2 separate regions of the Homo sapiens genome follow, and region 2 is linked to region 1. Evidence: fine-mapped expression QTL. A gene starts in region 1. The other region holds a variant in brackets. All regions are shown on one strand. Distances are between the middles of the regions.

Region 1 (9,896 bases):
CCCCACGTGCTAGGATTACAGGTGTGAGCCACCATGCCTGGCCCACTTTTTTAAAAAGATACTTTTTTCCTTCAACTGTCTGCCTCTCCCTCTATGAAGTCCCCAAGAGAGCAGAACTTTATGTGACTGGTTCTTTGCCCTAGCCTTGATACAGTGCCTCATGCACAGGAGTTCCGTGGTGATTTGTTCACTTCCCCACTCTCTTAGCCCAAAGTCTAATCTTAGGCACCTCCCCAAGTAAGATAGTTGATGTGAGGTGCTAGGCACACCTGGCAATCAATCGGTGTAAGTTCCTGTCCTTCTTCTTCCCCTCTAGCTCCATCCTACCCCACTCCCATCCCAGGTCCACGTACCTGGATAAGACCCACTTTGCCCACGTTGGGGAAGCTGGATGCAGTGCCCATGGGGCTTCCCAGCAGCCCGGCCAGCACACTGCCCAGCCCCTCCAGGCTCAGCCCTCGACTGCAGGCATGTGGAGGTGGGGGAGGCAAATGCAGCAGCCGGCCACACAGGGCATAGCAGCCCAGGGAACTGGTGGAGGCTGCCAAGGCCATGGAGATGCCTGCAGCCAGAGCTCTGGGCGTCAGCAAAGGCCAATTCCACTCACCTGGGGAGGGAGAAGAAGCCACTTTGGGGCCAGACTCAAGTCAGGAGTACCCCCTGCCTCCAACAGCCTGTGCCACAAGAATCCTAGATGCCTCAATGTCTTTGAAGACAATGTCTTGGGACAAAACTACTGAACTCTAAGGAGAAAGACCCATGCCTTTACCATGGTCTACAAGGTCCTCTTTGGTCTGGCCCTTCCCTCTCTCTGCAGCCTTATCTCCCAGCACACTCTGCCTCACTTCCTTCATTCCTGCCACACTGGCCTTGTTGTAGGCCTTTGTACATGCTGTGCTCCCAGCCACCACAGGGCCTTTGCATATGCAGTTTCCTGCAACTAGAATGCGCTTCCCTCCTGCCTTTGTCTAGTTAGCTCCTACTCATCTCTTCCATCTCAACTCAGTGGCCACATCCTCAAGAATATCCTTACTTAGGCGGGGTGCAGTAGCTCACGCCTGTAATCCCAGCACTTTGGGAGGCCAAGGCAGGTGGCTCACCTGAGGTCAGGAGTTTGTGACCAGCCTGGCCAACATGGTGAAACCCCATCTCTACTAAAAATACAAAATTAGCCAGGCATGGTGGTGCATGCCTGTAATCCCAGCCACTTGGGAGGTGGAAGCAGGAGAATCACTTGAACCCGGAAGGCGGAGGTGCAGTTAGCCAAGATCACACCATTGCACTCCAGCCTGGGCGACAAGAGTGAAACTCCATTTCAAAAAAAAAAAAAAAATTTACTGACCTCCCTGATAAATTCAAATTCCCTATTATAAGTTTTTTGGTTTGTTTGTTTGTTTTGAGACAGGTCCTTGCTCTGTTACCCAGGCTGAAGTGCAGTAATGCAATCATAGCTCACTGCAGCCTCAATCTCTCGGGCTCAAGCGATCCTCCCACCTTAGCCTCTGAAGTAACTGGGACTAAAGGTGCATGCCACCATATCTGGCTAATTTTTTATACTGTTAATAGAGACGAGGTCTCACTATGTTGCCCAGGCTGGTCTCTAACTCCTGAGCTCAAGCAATCCTCCCACCTCAGCCTCCCAAAGTGCTGGAATTTCAGGTGTGAGCCATGGTGCCTGGCTATTTTATTTTATTTTATTTTATTTATTTTATTTTAATTTATTTTATTTTATTTTTATAAACAAGGTCTCACTCTGTCGCCTGGGCTAGAATGCAGTGGTGCAATCATAGCACACCGCAGCCTCCAACTCCTGGGCTCAAGTGATCCTCCTGCCTCAGTCTCCTGAGTAGCTAGGCCTACAAGCATGTGCCACTAGGCCCAGCTAATTTTTTTATGTTTTGTAGAGTGGAGTCTTGCTTTATTACCCAGGCTGCTCTCGAAATCCTTGCCTCAAGCAGTCTTCCTGCTTCTGCCTCCCAAAGTGCTGGGATTATAGGTGTGAGCCACTGTGCCTGGCCTCCATTATAAGCTCTTAGGACACAATGTATCTCCCTTTGGTTACACTTCCCACAATGGCAATTTTATATTTCCTCGGGTGACTCTTTAATTAGTATCTGTATTCCCCAATAGACTGTAAGCTCCCTGAAGGCAAGTACTGTTTCTGTCATGTTCATCACTATGTCCTCTACCATGTGCCTAGCACATAATCAGCAGTCAACAGATCCTTATTAAATTAATGAACAACCAGCCTGGACAACATGGCGAAATCCCGTCTCTACAAAACAACACAAAAATTAGCCAGGCATGGTGGTGCACGCTTGTAATCCCAGCTACTTGTGGGGCTGAGGCACAAGGATAGCTTGAGCCAAGGAGGTTGAGGCTGCAGTGAGCCATGTTTGCATCAATGCTCTCAGCCTGGGTAACACAGCAAGACCCTGTCCCAAAAAGTAAATTAAATAAATAAATAAATTGAAGAATGAGCAAATTTCACATACAATGCCTCAAAAGCAATCTTTATACATAGGTTGCCAAGTCAAATGCCCATAGGGGCTGGTAACATAAATGTGTTCATTGGGTAAGGAGTATTGGTAGTGAGTATCGGGGGTTACAGAAACAACAGATGTCTGTCTCCTAACACTGACCCAAATAAAACACCTGCAGTGGGATGGGGCACAGTGGCTCATGCCTGTAATCCCAGCATTTAATCAAGCAGATCACTTGAGCCCAGGAGTTTGAGACCAGCCTGGGCAACATGGTGAAACCCTGTCTCTACAAAAAAAAAAAAAAAAAAAAAAGCACACCTGTAGTCCCAGCTACTCCGGAGGCTTAGGTGGGAGGATCACCTGGGCCTGGGAGGTTGAGGTTGCGTGAGCCATGATCACGCCATGCACTCCACCCTGTATGACAGAGTGAGACCCTGTCTCAAACAAACAAACAAAAAAACACCTACAGTGAGGGGCTAGCATTGTCTGTCTCTCAGACTGATAATTTCTCTCTCCTATATGTTTTCAAAAAACACAGGATTTAACTCAGAAATAAAATCCATTAAGTTCTTTGAGTTCAAATAGATACCTTTATTTGAACAAGAGAATGGAGGACTAGGAGAAAACCTACCTGGGTGAGGCAGCCAAATCCATGGTGCCTTGGTGGGGGCAGACAGTTCCTGGGGGATAACACTGAATCCCACAAAGGCAGAAACAATCCACACACAGGCCACTGGGATCAGCACCTGAGGGGCGAGACTGAGAAAAGAACTCCTCCCCCAGAACCTTCTGAGCCAGCCTTGCAGGGGTAGACAGAAGCCAAAAGGTAGGGGATGGAGTGAGCACTCCAGGCCAGCCCTTCTGACCTCTACTGCCCTGCCCAGACCCACACATACCGAAAGGAGCCGGAAGACAGGGAGAGGAGTGTGAGTTGATGACGTTGAAGCTCGCCTCCAGGGGCACACATGAAACTGGCAGGAGCCCAGGTGCTGAGAACAGACCACCATGAGCAGGATAACCCTAGGAGACAGAAGGCTTTAGGAGCAAGAGGCAGTGGGTATCCTGAGGGATGGGAAAGGAGGTGGGAGTGGGCAGAATATCATAAGAGCGGGGGGTGATACCAGAGAAGGAAACTCCCATGGAAGGAATAGGAAGTGACCTTGGGGGACAGCAGAAAACAGTGTGAAATTCAAGGAGACCAGATGAATCAAGGAAAAGTCTTGGATTCCAAATATAAAATATGTCCCTATTCCAGTCGCTGCTGAATCTGATAGGACCAGCAGTTCTGCCCTCCCCTAGTCCCCCCATACACCCCCACTGGGCACCATCCCACGCCTCTCAGGACTCACGTACAGCAAGGCCAACCCCCAGTGTGTGAAGCAGAACTGGGCTACCTCCCTGTGGGCAGAGAGCCCTGCCACAACCAGGCTGGGAGCCAGCACCAGGGGCCCACAGTGGGGGAACACGTGGCCGGGACTCCCCAGCAGCCCCATCATGCCCTGCAGCAGCCCAGATACTACCACTGCCCCGGACACCTGGTAGAAGAGAGGAGAGGATGGAGAGAAAACATTCTGCTCAATCAAACTGGCCTCAGCCTGGTCTTCCTAATTCTAAGTATGGGTTCCTCCCAAAACTCCTTTCCAGGAGCATCTCAGTCTGTGCATAATGGAAACAAGAGCCCCCCCCAAGCCTGGCACCACCCTTATCCCTTCTCACCTCCAGATACCCACCTCCTGGAGAGAAGTGTTCCAGTGCCCCAGGCCATGGCAGCTAGGTCCCCTACAAAGGTGCAGCATGAGGGAGGCTAGGAAAAGTTTGGGGCATGGAGAAGAGAAGGGTGAATGGAATGGAGACCCATTGCTCTACAGTCCCACTCCTGGCACAGGTCCAAGCCCCCTATAGTGTCACAGTCTCACCACTGCCCAATCTCAATTCTGCACCCACCTACACCTGCATGCTCAGATGAGAACCCAGCCCCACCCTTACCCCTTGCCCTTGCTCTGTGCTCACAGTTTCCAGGTGTCTGGATGGCCCGGGGTAGCTTCTGGCTGGTCAGCACCAGAGCAGGGATAAGGAACTCTAAGGATGGAGCCTGGACAAGAGGCAGCCTGTAGGAACAGCAGCCCCAGCAGGTCTGGGACTATGTGGCAGCCAGCAAGGCTCCCCCAAACCTCTCCTACCCTCCAGGACTCTGCCCCTCTCTCCAGGGAGGTTCCTCTCACCTGCTGCCCATCCAAGTTTGCAGGATGGTAGACATACCACATGAAAAGAAGCTGGAGGCCAGGAGCTGAGAAGGGGAGTAAGAGAGTCCTCCTGGGGAGAGACTGCAAAGCAGGAGCAGGTGGGAGACACAGAGCAGAGAAGCCATGACCAAGACATGCTGCAGGTGGAGGAATGGGGAGGGCAGTCTTCAGAGAAGTGGAAATACCTACAATACTTCCAGAGGCTTTCACATGCCACATCTACACCTACTTCCCCACACACACCATCAGGCAGCACCAACTCCTGCACCTCTGCCTCCTACCTGCAGAGCCAGAAGACAGCTGAGGCCCCAAGGCAGAGATCCACACAAAGGGTCCCAAGAGTGGGTGGAGGGATTCTGGGGAGCAGGTGGAGGCAAGGGGGCCAGGGCATCCTGGGAGCCCACTGATCGGAGTTGGCTGGGATTGAGGGGTGATCGGCTCATGCTGCCTTGCCTTTCGCTTTGTCTTGGCTGCCCGGGACCAGAGTTAAGTAGAGAGAGTAAGAGGTCAGAGTTTGGGTGAAGCCTGGGGTGGGGAGAAGGTGGGGAGAGGGTGGGGGTGTCAATGAAGCGGAGCAAAGGTATAAGGAATTTGGGGCAGGGCACCACCCTTTCACCTTTGCCCAGCTGTTGTGCAAATTCCATCAGCCATTAACTGGGGAGCTGAGTTCTGGGGCCCTCCCCCGAGAATCTTCTTCCAGATTTCCTGCCCCTAGACCAGGCTGTAGAAAGTAGGATAGGAGGGGTGGGGAGGAGAGGAGCTCTTCAAAATAATATGGGGAAATTTTGCAGACTTTATTCCCTCCCATTTAAAACTATCACTATTTGATCCACAGTCCTCACCCCTTTCAGAACCAAGGCCCCTGGACTACTTCAAAATGAAACTTGTGGGCTCAGTATGGTGGCTCATGCCTGTAATCACACCACTTTGGGAGGCCGAACTGGGTGTATCACTTGAGGTGAGGAGTTCAAGACCAGCCTGGCAACATGGTGAAACCATCTCTACTAAAAATACAAAACTTAGCTGGATGTGGTGGCACATCCCTGTAATCCCACCTACTCGGGAGGCTGAGGCACAAGAATTGCTCGAACCCAGAAGGCGGAGGTTGTAGTGAGCTGAGACCGTGCCACTGCACTCCAGCCTGGGTGACAGAGTGAGACTGTGTCAAAAAAAAAAAGAAAAAAGAAAAAAAGAAACTTGTGGACAATATATCCTACATCACATGTGACAACCACAACTACCTGAAACATGCTCACTGTAAAGAATAAAATTTATAATAACATGTATTTCATTACGTGAAGGCTTAAGCACAACTAAACCAGAAGACAATAAAGTACAATGAAGTAGTCCAATCCCACACCCTATGAGAATTGCTGTGGTTGCAATAGCTGCAATGCCAGCTGATATTGGTGCTTTATCGGTGACTCTGATGTTGGTAACCCGATTTTCAAAATGGCAAACAAACTCTTGGTTAAGGTGCCAAGCAAAATAAAGTCGTCTTAATTTACATGGGAATGAATTCCTAGCAAACTGAGTCTTTTCAAAACGCACAAACGCTATTTCACGTTTACATGTGCAAAGACAGTTCTAGGCTCAGATAAACAGGGTTTTCATATACATAAAGCTGGTCATTCAAAAGTTGTCTTGGGAATTCTTCACAGTACGGGAGGTCTGAGCATTTCATGATGTCTAGCATCCCGCCCAGGTTGACGAAATGCCAGTAGCACCCCATCCCCTTGAATCCTTTTGACAATGAAAAAATAGCCCATAAATTTCCAAAATGCCCCCTAGGGGGCAGAACCACTTCTTCCGTGAAGTATCCTCAGCAGTCCCAAATACCCTCAGCCAAGCTGCCCAGACTGTTTTCCTTCCTCCAGTGATGACCCAGCCTTGGAGTTCTTCAAGTTCTTGGAATTGTTAAGCACCATGTGACCATCACCATGTGTCAGACCAGTGAGGAGGTCAGGAGAGAGAAGCGTCCTCGTGGCTTGCCCTCAGGAGCTCACAAGGCTCTGCTGGTTACAAGGCCTGGCCCCTCTCCACGAGATGTGCTTTGGGATCCACAAGGAGAGTGCTTACCCAGAACAAGTGACAGACAAGGCCAACTCAGGGACAGGACAGTCACCATGTGTGTCCCATGGCATCCCAAGTTGAGCAGTGCTAGGGCCCAGGGTCCTGGGAGCAGGAACAAAGTTGGAAATGGAAGCCTATGCCTATCAAACGATAGGAAAGTCCTGAGATGAGGCTGAGAAAACAGTTTGTGAGATGACAGGATCAGGAAGCAGGGAGGCTTGGAAGGCAGATACAGGGAGGAAAAATCTTCAAGGGCTGCCGCAGAAGGAAAAGTCCAGGCCATGCAACTGAAACTGTTTATTGAAACCTCAGTTCTACAAAAGCGTGAAAAACCCTGATACAAAGCAGTGGCCAGAGAGGCCTGGGAAGAGAATACCTGGGAGAAGAACCAGAAGAGAGGGAAACCTAGGAGCAGGACACTAAGAGAAGACTGGAAGACAAAAGATCAGGGTTGAAGGTCCCAGCAGTCCTTGGCTCCATTAGACTAAAGCTAAGGAATGGGAGTGAAAAGGGTTCCCTGCCTCACCCAGCAGCTCCCACCTGAACCCATCAGTCCCCGGCTCTTCTGCCTCAGGGACATCACACAGGCCCATGCCAACATTTCCTTTCTCCTCTCACCCCACTTCCCTTATCTCCCACCTATACTCTTCCATCCTAGGGAAATCAAAAGTAAAAGTCTAAAAAATCCCAGGGAGGCAGAGAGGGGCTTCTATGTCCATCTGGGACATGTCCCTGGTCACCAAGCGGAAGCTCTCCCTGGCGGCATCACTGTCCTGGCCAAGCAGCCAGCCACTGCGATCTAGGAGTGAATTACCTTCAGTCCTTCTGCCCCACCACCCCATAAGCTCCCACCCAGGAGGACAGGGGACCTGCCAAGGACCCAGCGAGGCAGACAGGATCTGAATCAAGCTTTGCTCCTCCAGGTTCTCAGAAACTCCCAAACCCTCTTAATGCATTCCTCACAGCCCTACCTAGCCTGGGAAAACGAAAGACTTGAGGCGAGCCAGCTCCATGACACTGAAAAGGGAACATTGCTGAGGCTGAGGAAGTGAAAGGAGCACCGGGCTCCAAGGCCAGGGGGGAGCCAGGCCATAGGTATGGTACCAGGGGCTGGACAGCGCAGTGGGGACTGTACGGTTGGGGTGGAGGCAGGCATGGCAGGTTGGGGAGTCTCTCTGGAGCTTCTGGCAAAGGTGGCAGTTATGAAGAAGAGTGGGAGGGGCAGGGGGGTCTGGGGGAGGCAATGGTGGAGGAGTCAGTGAGGCCAGAAGACTGCCCCAGAGTGACCGCAGCCCCATGCTGCCTTCCAGGCAGCTGGAGACATTAGCGAGAGACGGCAGGCATTGTGGCACAGAAGGTATGCAGGGCTCCAGGAGGCAACGGGAGGTCAGTCCAAGGTCAGGCGGCCCAGGTGTAGGGATGCAGGACAGCCCCAAAGACTGATGTATTACGGCCACCGATGCCACAGCCAGGGCCACACTGCTCACATATGCCACAGCTAACAGGCAAGACAGCTGCAGGAGAGGAGATAAGAAAGAAGGAATCTGTCTTTAACACATTCACCCCTTGTCTCTAGAAATCTGTGTTCCAGTTGGAGGTCTCTATAGCCATTTACACCCCACTCTGCCCATCTATTCCCAACCCCATCTCCTGGGCTTTTCAGCAATCACTTCACACCATCCCACCCTACACACCGGCCTGCTCAAGCTCCCTATCCTTCCGAGCCCCTCCTCACCTTTACCAGCCGCTGGCAGAGGGAGCCCAGGGCCAACTGCCAGGTCGGCTGCTCCAGCAGCACACACAGGTCTGTGTAGGTGTACCAGCCTCGCCACCGTCCCTGCTGCTCAGCCACACTGGGGGAAGTGGAGAAATGACAAGAGTATGCAACTGTCCTGCAGCCAGCCCAGTGGCACCCTCATACCACTCAGGACCCACCAGGAAACACTGGGAAGCCTGTTAAACCCAGATTCCTAGGCTATCTGCTGATCTAGAAACTAAGGGTGAGACCAAGACCTATATTTTATTTATTTTTATTTATTTATTTTGTTAAGACAGGATCTTGCTGTCTCCCAGGCTGGAGTGCAGTAGTGCAATCATAGCTCACTGCAGACTCAACATCCTGGACTCAAATGATCCTCTTGTCTCAGCCTCCTGAGTAGCTGGGATTATGGGTGTACACCACTGCATCTGGCTAGTATTTTTTTCTGGTAGGGTCAGGCATCTTGCTATATTGCCCAGGCTGGTCTCGAACTCCTGGACCCAAGTAATCCTCCAGCCTCACCCTCCCAGAGTGCTAGGATTATAGACATAACTACCATACCCACCCAATACATGTATTTTAAATAAGCTGCTTCTCACCTTCCCAAAGGTGATGAAGAAGAGGACAGATGGGTCTGGGAACCACTATCTGGGCAATTCTCTTTCTTGTCTCCTCCCTCCCCCAGTTACACAGACTCTCATCTCTAGCTCCTATGGCTGAGGACTCAGCCCCCAAATCCCTCGAGCCCTTCTTCCCAACTCCTAGAACCTACCAGCTCTCCAACCAGCTCAGCACCTCAAAGATCTCCCGAGGGTCAGTGTAGAGATGCCAATCCTGTGAGTACGGAGAGTGGACATCAAACCAGACTTGGATGAGCCACAGTCATTTAATAATAAGAGCCATAGCAGCAACTACAACCGCCCCTATGGCTAATGCATATTTGGCACTTACCATGTGCCAGATACTGTCTCAAAAGTTTTTACACATTAACTCATTGAATCACCACCTGCCTGGTTTCACATTATACTCTCCACTAAGCAAGAGGGGAGAAAATGACCCTGAGAATGGTCTGTGTCCACAGGGAGCTAAACATCTAGGGGCAGAGAAAGTATGGACACAAATATTCAGAACCCAATAGGATAAACTCTGACTCAGAGTGTACCCTGTGGGGCCCTGGAGGAATAGAGGAGGCGAGGAAATGTTCTGCTCTTGGCCTTACTGCTCTACGAATCTCCAAAAACTGGTTAGTACTGAAGAGATAGGAAAGGAAGACACTAACACAAAGGCAGGAGGAGGACAGGAAGAGAAATGACGAACCAACAGAAGACTGAGAGAGAA
Region 2 (8,955 bases), 26 kb after region 1:
TATCTAGTCTCAGGTATTTAGTTATAGCAGCCCAAATGGACTAAGACAACACTTCAGTAAAAAGTGTCAATACCAAAGTGTACTGATAATTTACTTCTGCATAACAAACTACTCTAAAGTTAGCAGCCTAAAACAACAAACATTATCTCACACTACTTCTGAGGATTAGGAATCTGGGTAGTTGGCCGGGTGTGGTGGCTCACGCCTGTAATCCCAGCACTTTGGGAGGCTGAGGTGGGCAGATCACGAGGTCAGGAGTTCGAGACCATCCTGGCCAACCTGGTGACACCCTGTCTCTACTAAAATACAAAAATAAGCTGGGTGTGGTGGCATGTGCCTGTAATCCCAGCTACTCAGGAGGCTGAGACACAAGAATCGCTTGAACCTAGGAGGCGGAGGTTGCAGTGAGCCGAGATCGTGCCACTGCACTCCAGCCTGGGCGACACAGCAAGACTCCGTCTCAAAAAAAAAAAAAAATCCACCTCTTGAAGGGAGAAGTATCAAAGAAATTGTAGATATAGTTTTAAACTACCACACAAAATTTACTTGGAAATTATATCAAAGGATTTGGACTGACAATGTACTAATTTTTTAAAATTAAAAATACAATTTATCAACACATGAGAAATGAACAAATTTAGTAATAACTAAGAAATATACAAACAAGTCGGGCGTGGTGGCTCATGCTGAGGTGGTAGGATCACTTGAACCTAGGAATTCGAGGCTACAGTGAGCTATAATCGTGCCACTGCATTCCAGCCTGGGTAACAGAGTGAGGCCCCATCTTAATAAAAATAGGCTGGGTGCAGTGGTTTACGCCTGTAATCCCAGCACTTTGGGAGGCCAAGAGTTCAAGACCAGCCTAGGCAACATAGTGAGACCCACCCCCCCATCTCTATAAAATATATATAATTAAAAAATTAGCCAGGTGAGGTGCTTGTGCCTATGATCTCAGCTACTCTGGAAGCTGAGGCAGGAGGATCGCTTGAGCCCATGAGGTTGAGGCTGCAGTGAGCCGTAACTGAGCTACTGCACTCCAACCTAGGCAACAGAGCAAGACCCTGTCTCATAAAAAAAAAAAGCACAAACAACTAATAATATACATTTGTTAATTATTGAGTATGTGTCAGTCATAGAATTCAGTGCTTTACATGCATCATTTTATTTAATCTTCATCACTCCGCATTGATGTAGGAACTGATTTTTATAGATGAGGAACTGGAGGCTTATTGAGGTAAAATGACTTGGCCAAAGTCACGCAGCTGGTTGTGATCACAATACTGTTTTTCAGTATTCTGGTATTCCCACATATCCTCATATTTTAAAGTACCAAAACAGAACTTTAGTTGAGGCGAAATAATTCCTTTTATTTATTTATTTAGTTTTTTTGAGACAGAGTATCGCTCTGTCACTCAGGCTGGAGTGCAGTGGCACAATCTGGGATCACTGCTACCTCCGCCTCCCGGGTTCAAGAGATTCTTCTGCCTCAGCCTCCCGAGTAGCTGGGACTATAGGTGCACACCACCATGCCTGGCAAATTTTTGTATTTTTTTAGTAGGGACGGAGTTTCACTACGTTGGTCAGGCTGGTCTTGAACTCCTGACCTCCACCTGCCTCGGCCTCCCAAAGTGCTGGGATTACAGGCGTGAGCCACTGCGCCCGGCCCTAAGTGAAATAATTCTTTAAGCATTAAAAAAAGAGATCTGACTTCTAGATCATTTGTAAATGAGGTATAGCTGCATTAAAAATTTGAACACACAAGGGCTTATTTGTTTAGAAAGCATTGTTGCATTCCACAGACTTCAAAAGGAGAAAAAAATGTCAATGGACAAAACAAGCTTCTGTTGCGACAACAGTTATTCTAGTTCAAAGACTCTTTAAACAAGTAGACCTTAGAAACAGGACATTAAATTTTAAATGAGTTTTCTGCATCAGAATCTCAATCTATATTCAATGAAATTGAAAAAGATGGATATAGGGCTCTGCATGGTGGCTCATGCCTGTAATCCCAGCTTTTTGGGAGGCTGAGACAGAAGGATCCCTTGAGCCCAGAAGTTTGAGGCTGCAGTGAGCCATGATCATGCTATTGCACTCCAGAATGGGTGACAGAGTGAGACCCGATCTCTAAAAAATAAATAAATAAATAAAAAATAACTGAGAAAAGATGGATTCAAACCAAAAATATGTCCTTTGAAGAAAAAACTAGAGCTCACCAGAATTTAAAACAAAAAAACACATCTATGCAAAGAAACAAAATAATTGTTCAAAAAGATCTCATCCAGGATCATGAGAGCTATTTTTTTAAAAAAAGGAAAAAAAATAAAACTCCTCAAAGTTACCAAACAAGAGATGAGATTATTTAAACAAGAAATAATGAAATAACTATGTGAAGTTAAATTATAACCATCTCTTTACCATTCTCCTGAGTAGTATAACACCAGAAAGAGCTTTTTAGAAGCTAGCAAAATTTGCACAAAAAATACATTTGCAACTTAACAGTAACACCTTTATATATTTTAAGAGATCTCTATTCTTTTTGAGACAGAGTCTCACTCTGTTGCCCAGGCTGGAGCGCAATGGTGCCATCGTGGCTCACTGCAAGCTCCGCCTCCCGGGTTCCCGCCATTCTCCCTCCTCAGCCTCCCGAATAGCTGGGACTACAGGCGCCCGCCACCACGCCCGGCTATTTTTTTGTATTTTTAGTAGAGACAGGGTTTCACTGTATTAGCCAGGATGGTCTCGATCTCCTGACCTCGTGATCCACCCACCTTGGCCTCCCAAAGTGCTGGGATTACAGGTGTGAGCCACCATGCCCGGCCAAGAGATCTCTAGTCTTAAATAAAGCAGGCCAGGAATGGTGGCTCACACCTGTAATCCCAGCACTTTGGGAGGCCGAGGTGGGTGGATCATTTGAGGTTAGGAGTTCGAGACCAGCCTGACCAACATGGTGAAACCTCATCTCTACTAAAAATACAAAAATTAGCTGGGTGTGGTGGTGCGTGCTTGTAATACCAGCTACTCAGAAGGCTGAGGCAGGAGAGTTGCTTGAACCCAGCTTGAACCCGGGAGGCAGGGGTTGTGGTCAGTGGAGATCGCGCCACTGCACTCCAGCCTGGGCAACAGAGTGAGACTCCATCTCAAAAAATAAAAAAATAAAAAGAGCAAATAATTTTATTTTCAATTATTTATGATTACATTTTCATTTTTATTAGAGTTTAATTTTTTACTTTAACATGTTATTACTTCTGTTGATTTATATTAAAATAATTATATTTAAGTCATATTTCTACATTTAGTTATATATAAATATATACATAAATGTTTGTCTTTCAAAGGTATTAAGCATTTTGTTTTTAATGTTGAACATTTTGCTTTAAAAATAAATTACCATTTTATATAAAATAAATACTGAAATACTAGTGAAGTCACTGTGCACTGGTCTTTCCATTTCTAACCGCTGGTAATTACTGGCACTGGGATTTGAACTCAGAATAGCTCCAGTTTTACATTTCGTCTAAATCAGGGTTTCTCAAAGACTGTACTACTGACATTTTGAGCCAGATAATTATTATTTGGTGGTAGGTGGGGCTGACTGTCTTATTCATTGTAGAATGTTTTTTGTTTGGTTGGTTTTGGGTTTTTGTTTTGTTTTGTTTTTTTGTTTTTGAGACAGGGTCTCACTTTGTTGCCCAGGCTGGAGTGCAGTGGCATGAACACAGCTCACCTGCAGCCTCAACCTCCTGGGCTCAAGTGATCCTCCCACTTCAGCCTCCCAAGTATATGGGGACTACAGTTGTGTGCCACCACACTCAGCTAATTAGAAAATTTTTTTTTTAATTTTTAATGTGTGTGGGTACATTGTAGGTGTATATATTTATGGGGTACATGAGATATTTTGATACAGGCATGCAATGAGTAATAATGACACCAGGGCAAATGGGGGTATCCATCACCTCAAGCATTTATCCTTTGTGTTACAAACAATCCAATTATACTCTTTTAGTTATTTTTAAATGTACAATTAAATTATTTTTGACTATAGTCACTCTGTTGTGCTAGCAAATACTAGGTCTTATTCATTCTTTCTAATTTTTAAAATTTTTGTAGCGCCTGGGTCCCGCCATGTTGCCCAGGCGACGTAGAATGTTTAGTATCATCCTCGCTTGCTTGCCACCCATTTGATGCCAAAAGACACCCCCCTCCTACCTCCCCACCCCCCAAATATCCCCTGGAGGCAAAATTGCCCTGGTGGATCACCACTGATCTAACTGATAGTACCCTCTGGTTATATGGGAAAACTGCTAAACTTGGAAGCAGGAGGTGAGTTTGAACCCTAGTTTTTGCCACCTGAATATAGATGTTTATACACACACATTTCAAAACAATACAAAAATTACCTGGCTGTTCAGCTTCATATCTCTCCCCATTTCCTTCCTCTAATGGGATATTCCAACCCCAGAACAGCAGGTGTTTATAACCCTCCCTTCTCATTCCTCTCTTGTATTTGCATCTTTCAGTCAGGACCACTTTTCTGTCCATCTCACCTGGACAATCCTGAGTCACTCTTCAAGACTGAGCTCAGACAAGCTAAAGGCAGGCCCCTGAAAGGCAGAGGTGGCTAGCCCCATGGCAGGAGAGGGCTTAGAGGCTGTGATTAAAGATTCAAAGCCACTAGGACCTTGGTTTTAATGTTAAGGGACCACCTAAACTTTCCTGAAGATGAGGCTAATTCTGGCTGAGGGAAAACAAAAGAAGCCAGGAAGCTTCTCAGGAAGTAAAACTGAGGAACAGAGCTCGAATCTGACTCAAGAAAGCAGGTTTGAAGAGACAGAACACAAATAAGCCTTGCATTCCTTGAAAACAGATTCCCAACAAATGATAGGAGGTGGGGTTCAGGAGAAGGTCCAGACAGCCTCTCCATTTTTTTTTTCTTTGAGACAGAGTCTTGCTCTTGTTGCCCAGGCTCTAGTGCAGTGGCGCGATCTAGACTCACTGCAACCTCCACCTTCCAGTTTCAAGAGATTCTCCTGCCTCAGCCTCCCGAGTAGCTGGGATAACAGGCGCCTACCACCATGCCTGGCTAATTTCTGTATTTTTAGTAGAGACACGGTTTCACCATGTTGGCCAGGCAGGTCTCGAACTCCTGACCTTGTGATCTGCCTGCCTTAGCCTCCCAAAGTGCTGGGATTACAGATGTGAGCCACCGCACCTGGCCGCCTCCCTTATCTTAACAAACTCCTCAGACTGTGCAGGGTTTTTTTTCGCGTTTTTTTGTTTTTGTTTTTGAGACGGAGGCTTGCTCTGTTGCCCAGGCTGGAGTGCAGTGGTGTGATCTCAGCTCACTGCAATCTCCGCCTCCCAGGTTCAAGTGATTCTCCTGCCTCAGCCTCCTGAGCAGCTGGGACTACAGGCATGTGTCACCATGCCCAGCTAATTTTTGTATTTTTAGTAGAGATGGGTTTCTCCGTGTTGGCCAGGCTGGTCTCAAACTCCTGACCTCAGGTAATCCACCCGCCTCGGCCTCCCAAAGTGCTGAGATTACAGGCGTGAGCCACCGCACCCAGCCTGTTTTGTTTTGTTTTGAGATGGAGTCTCCCTCTGTAGCCCAGGCTGGAGTGCAGTGGTGTGATCTTGACTCACTGCAACCTCTGCCCTCTGGGTTCAGGCAATCTCCTGCCTCAGTCTCCCAAGTAGCTGGGATTACAGGCGTGAGCCACCATGCCCAGCTATTTTTCTTTTTCTTTTTTCTTTTTTTTTTTTTTTCTGAGACGGAGTCTCCCTCCGTCGCCCTGGCTGGAGTGCAATGGCAGGATCTCGGCTCACTGCAAC[T/C]TCCGCCTCCCTGGTTCAAGCAATCCTCGTGCCTCAGCCTCCCAAGTAGCTGGGATTACAGGCGTCCACTACCAAGGCTGACTCATTTTTTTTTTTTTTTTTTTTTGAGACAGAGTCTCACTCTGTCGCCCAGGCTGGAGTGCAGTGGCACAATCTCGGCTCACTGCAAGCTCTGCCTCCTGGGTTCATGCCATTCTCCCGCCTCAAGCCTCCCGAGTAGCTGGGACTACAGGCACCCGCCCCCACGCCCGGCTAATTTTTTGTATTTTTAGTAGAGACCGGGTTTCACCATGTTAGCCAGGATGGTCTCGATCTCCTGACCTCATGATCCGCCCACCTCAGCATCCCAAAGTGCTGGGATTACAGGAGTAAGCCACCGCGCCCAGCTTCTAACCTCTACTTTTTGAAAAATAATTTCCTCCCATCCAGTTTCTGTTTTGGGCACTCCTGTTCATAAAATCTTGAAACTCCTGGACTGATATTCTACTTTGCTTATTTTCCATTCCTTTACATTTTTTTGTTCTACTTCCTATATTTTCTCAACTTTATGTTGTACCCATTCTTTGGAATGTGCTATATTTCTGTGATTATATTTTTAAAAATGTCTAAGAGCTTTATTTTCTGAATATCCTTCCCCCTGTCCTCCCCACCCCCCATTTTATGAGATAGAATTTCACTATGTTGCTCAATCTGGACTCCAACTCCTGGGCTTGAGCAAACCTCTTGCTTCAGCCTCCTGTGTAGCTGGGATTACAGGTACACACCATTACACCTGGCTTGAATATCCCTTTTTATGTTTTTTTGCTCCTGTGTGTTAAATGAAAAATCTGCTCCCTGAGCTGGGCACAGTGGCTCACACCTGTAATCCCAGCACTTTGGAAGGCCAAGGCGGGTGGATCACCTGAGGTCGGGAGTTCGAGACCAGCCTGACCAACATGGAGAAACCCCGTCTCTACTGAAAATACAAAATCAGTCGGGCATGGTGGTGCATGCCTGTAATCCCAGCTACTAGGGAGGCTGAGGCAGGAGAATCGCTTGCACCTGGGAGGTGGAGGTTGTGGTGAGCCGAGATCGTGCCACTGCACTCCAGCCTGGGCAACAAGAGTAAAACTCCATCTCAAAAAAAAAAAAAATCTGCTTCCTGAGTACACTGTATTAATATTAATCATTTTCTTTTTTTTTTTTTTTTGAGACAGAGTCTTACTCTGTCGCCTAGGCTGGAGTGCAGTGGCACTATCTCAGCTCACTGTAACCTCTGCCTCCCGGGTTCAAGTGATTCTCCTGCCTCAGTCTCCCGAGTAGCTGGGATTACAGGCGCCTGCTACCAAGCCCAGCTAATTTTTGTATTTTTAGTAGAGACAGGGTTTCGCCATGTTGGCCAGTCTGGTCTCAAACTCCTGACCTCAAGTGATCCAACTGCCTTGGCCTCCCAAGGTGCTGGAATTACAGGCGTGAGCCACCACGCCTGGCCTAATCATTCTCTTTTTTTTTTTTTTTTTTTTTTTTTGAGACAGAGTCTCACTCTGTTGCCCAGGCTGGAGTGTAGTGGCGCCATCTTGGCTCACTGCAACCTCTGCCTCCTGGGTTCAAGCGATTCTCCTGCCTCAGCCTCCCAAGTAGCTGGGACTATGGGCACCCACCACCACACCAGCTAATTGTTGTATTTTTCGTAGAGACAGGGTTTTACCATGTTGGCCAGGCTGGTCTCGAACTCCTGACCTCAGGTGATCTGCCCACCTCAGTCTCCCAAAGTGTTGGGATTACAGGCGTGAGCCACTGCCCCCAGCCCTGAGCATTCTTAATAAGTTATATTATTATATTATTAGTAGTCTAGTTATATAAATTATATTTTTACATTCCCTGCATTGTACTTGTTTTCCTCCTCACCACCATTTATGTCTTTATTTTGGCTTCTGTCTTTCATGGAAGAGACTTCCCTCAAACCCTGGTTTGCTCCTTCATATCTGAGCAGAGGCACTTAAAGGCCAACTGAATGCTCTCTAAAATTCGAAGATTTGCATCTTCCCTGCAGGGTGAGGTGGCAGAGACAACCATTGTGTTGAGATCCCTCAATGCCCAGAGAATTTTTAGGCTGCTCGGTTCTTCCAGAGAAGAACCCTGCAGCCTCTGGCCTGGGGACCATGAACCTGGCTGCTAGTGCTCTAGAGTCAGGAGAAAATAGCTGCAGTTTCTCTCCCTCTTCACCCTCAGCTGGCTGACAACCTGAAGCCCAGGGACCCATTGCTTCATTCTCTCCAGAGAACCCAGATACCTCCTGCCTTTTCTGGGGGGGCAGTGGGAGAGGGGCAGTCACCCAGCTGCCCAGGCTGGAGGAGGGAACATGAGGGTCTAACTGCTCCTTATGTCGAGTTTAAACTCACCCTTCATTTCCAGCCCCCTCCTTCCACCCCTACCTTTGGAAAGCTTGATGCTCCCAGTCCCAAGCCTTTCAGCGGCAACGAAGTCAACACTGGCCTGCCGCTTGTTGTTCCCACCGTTTCAACTTCCTCGGACCCTAGTCAGTTTTCCTTCTTCCATCAGATGTTTAGCTCCCAAAATGTTTTTGTCATATCTTCATGTATTGTTTTCGCTTCTGTTCTCCTTATTGTTTTACTGTTATTTTGGTGGGGTTTGGGAAGGAAGCAAACATAAAATCACATGCATTCATTTTACCACATTTAGCAGAGTCTCTTTCACCTCTCACCTCTTGCACCCTCAGACTCCTCTGAGCTCTACTTGAAGGTCATCCATAACCTTTGTGCTGCTCTCCCCAGGCCCCGCCTCTGGCTAGAGTGCATTTGGCATCTTGTCTGCCTGAAGCACTCTCACTGTGCCTCCCCAGCCTCACTCTTGGCCATTACTGGCTCCCATTTCCGTGTCCTGCACCTTCCCATTAGAGCATCGGTTTCAAACGTGGAGTTATGAAATTAGTGGGCTGTGCAATCAATTCGGTGCAGCTTAAACAACATTGATTTTATATTTATATACATTGGGAGGAGATGTAAGATATATTTCTTACCGTAGGTCAAAGCTGAAAAACTTGGAAAGCCACTGTATTCGGTCCTTCTCACTTTGAACTAGTTGCTGCATCTAAGACCTGACAACTCCAGTTGGTATTTAGCAGAT

Which allele goes with the higher level. Positions count from the first base shown, and alleles are read on the strand shown. Sizes are in standard deviations (SD) of each study's normalised expression.
In carriers of allele C in region 2, the expression in unexposed skin of the gene that starts at base 5,214 in region 1 tends to be lower than with T alone (small effect, 0.26 SD a copy in GTEx).

The links. PIP is the estimated chance that this variant, and not a neighbour inherited with it, causes the effect.
Region 2: its variant is fine-mapped to the expression of SLC23A3 in unexposed skin (GTEx, PIP 0.90).

What each region holds. Positions count from the first base shown.
Region 1 is chr2:219,164,816-219,174,711 of GRCh38, forward strand. It overlaps SLC23A3 (solute carrier family 23 member 3), which reads right to left and starts at 5,214. Exons shown (of 12, transcript NM_001144889.2): 1 at 5,008-5,214; 2 at 4,706-4,863; 3 at 4,494-4,591; 4 at 4,214-4,287; 5 at 3,837-4,018; 6 at 3,380-3,503; 7 at 3,115-3,229; 8 at 354-607. The coding sequence starts at 5,169. CNPPD1 (cyclin Pas1/PHO80 domain containing 1) reads right to left here. Exons shown (of 8, transcript NM_015680.6): 6 at 9,331-9,392; 7 at 8,535-8,652; 8 at 7,082-8,313. The coding sequence ends at 7,771. RefSeq lists enhancers at 6,501-6,660, 6,711-6,760.
Region 2 is chr2:219,191,050-219,200,004 of GRCh38, forward strand. No RefSeq gene overlaps it. Among named protein-coding and RNA genes, the nearest start is that of ZFAND2B, 11 kb to the right of the region's middle. The variant T/C (reference allele first, on the strand shown) is at 5,830.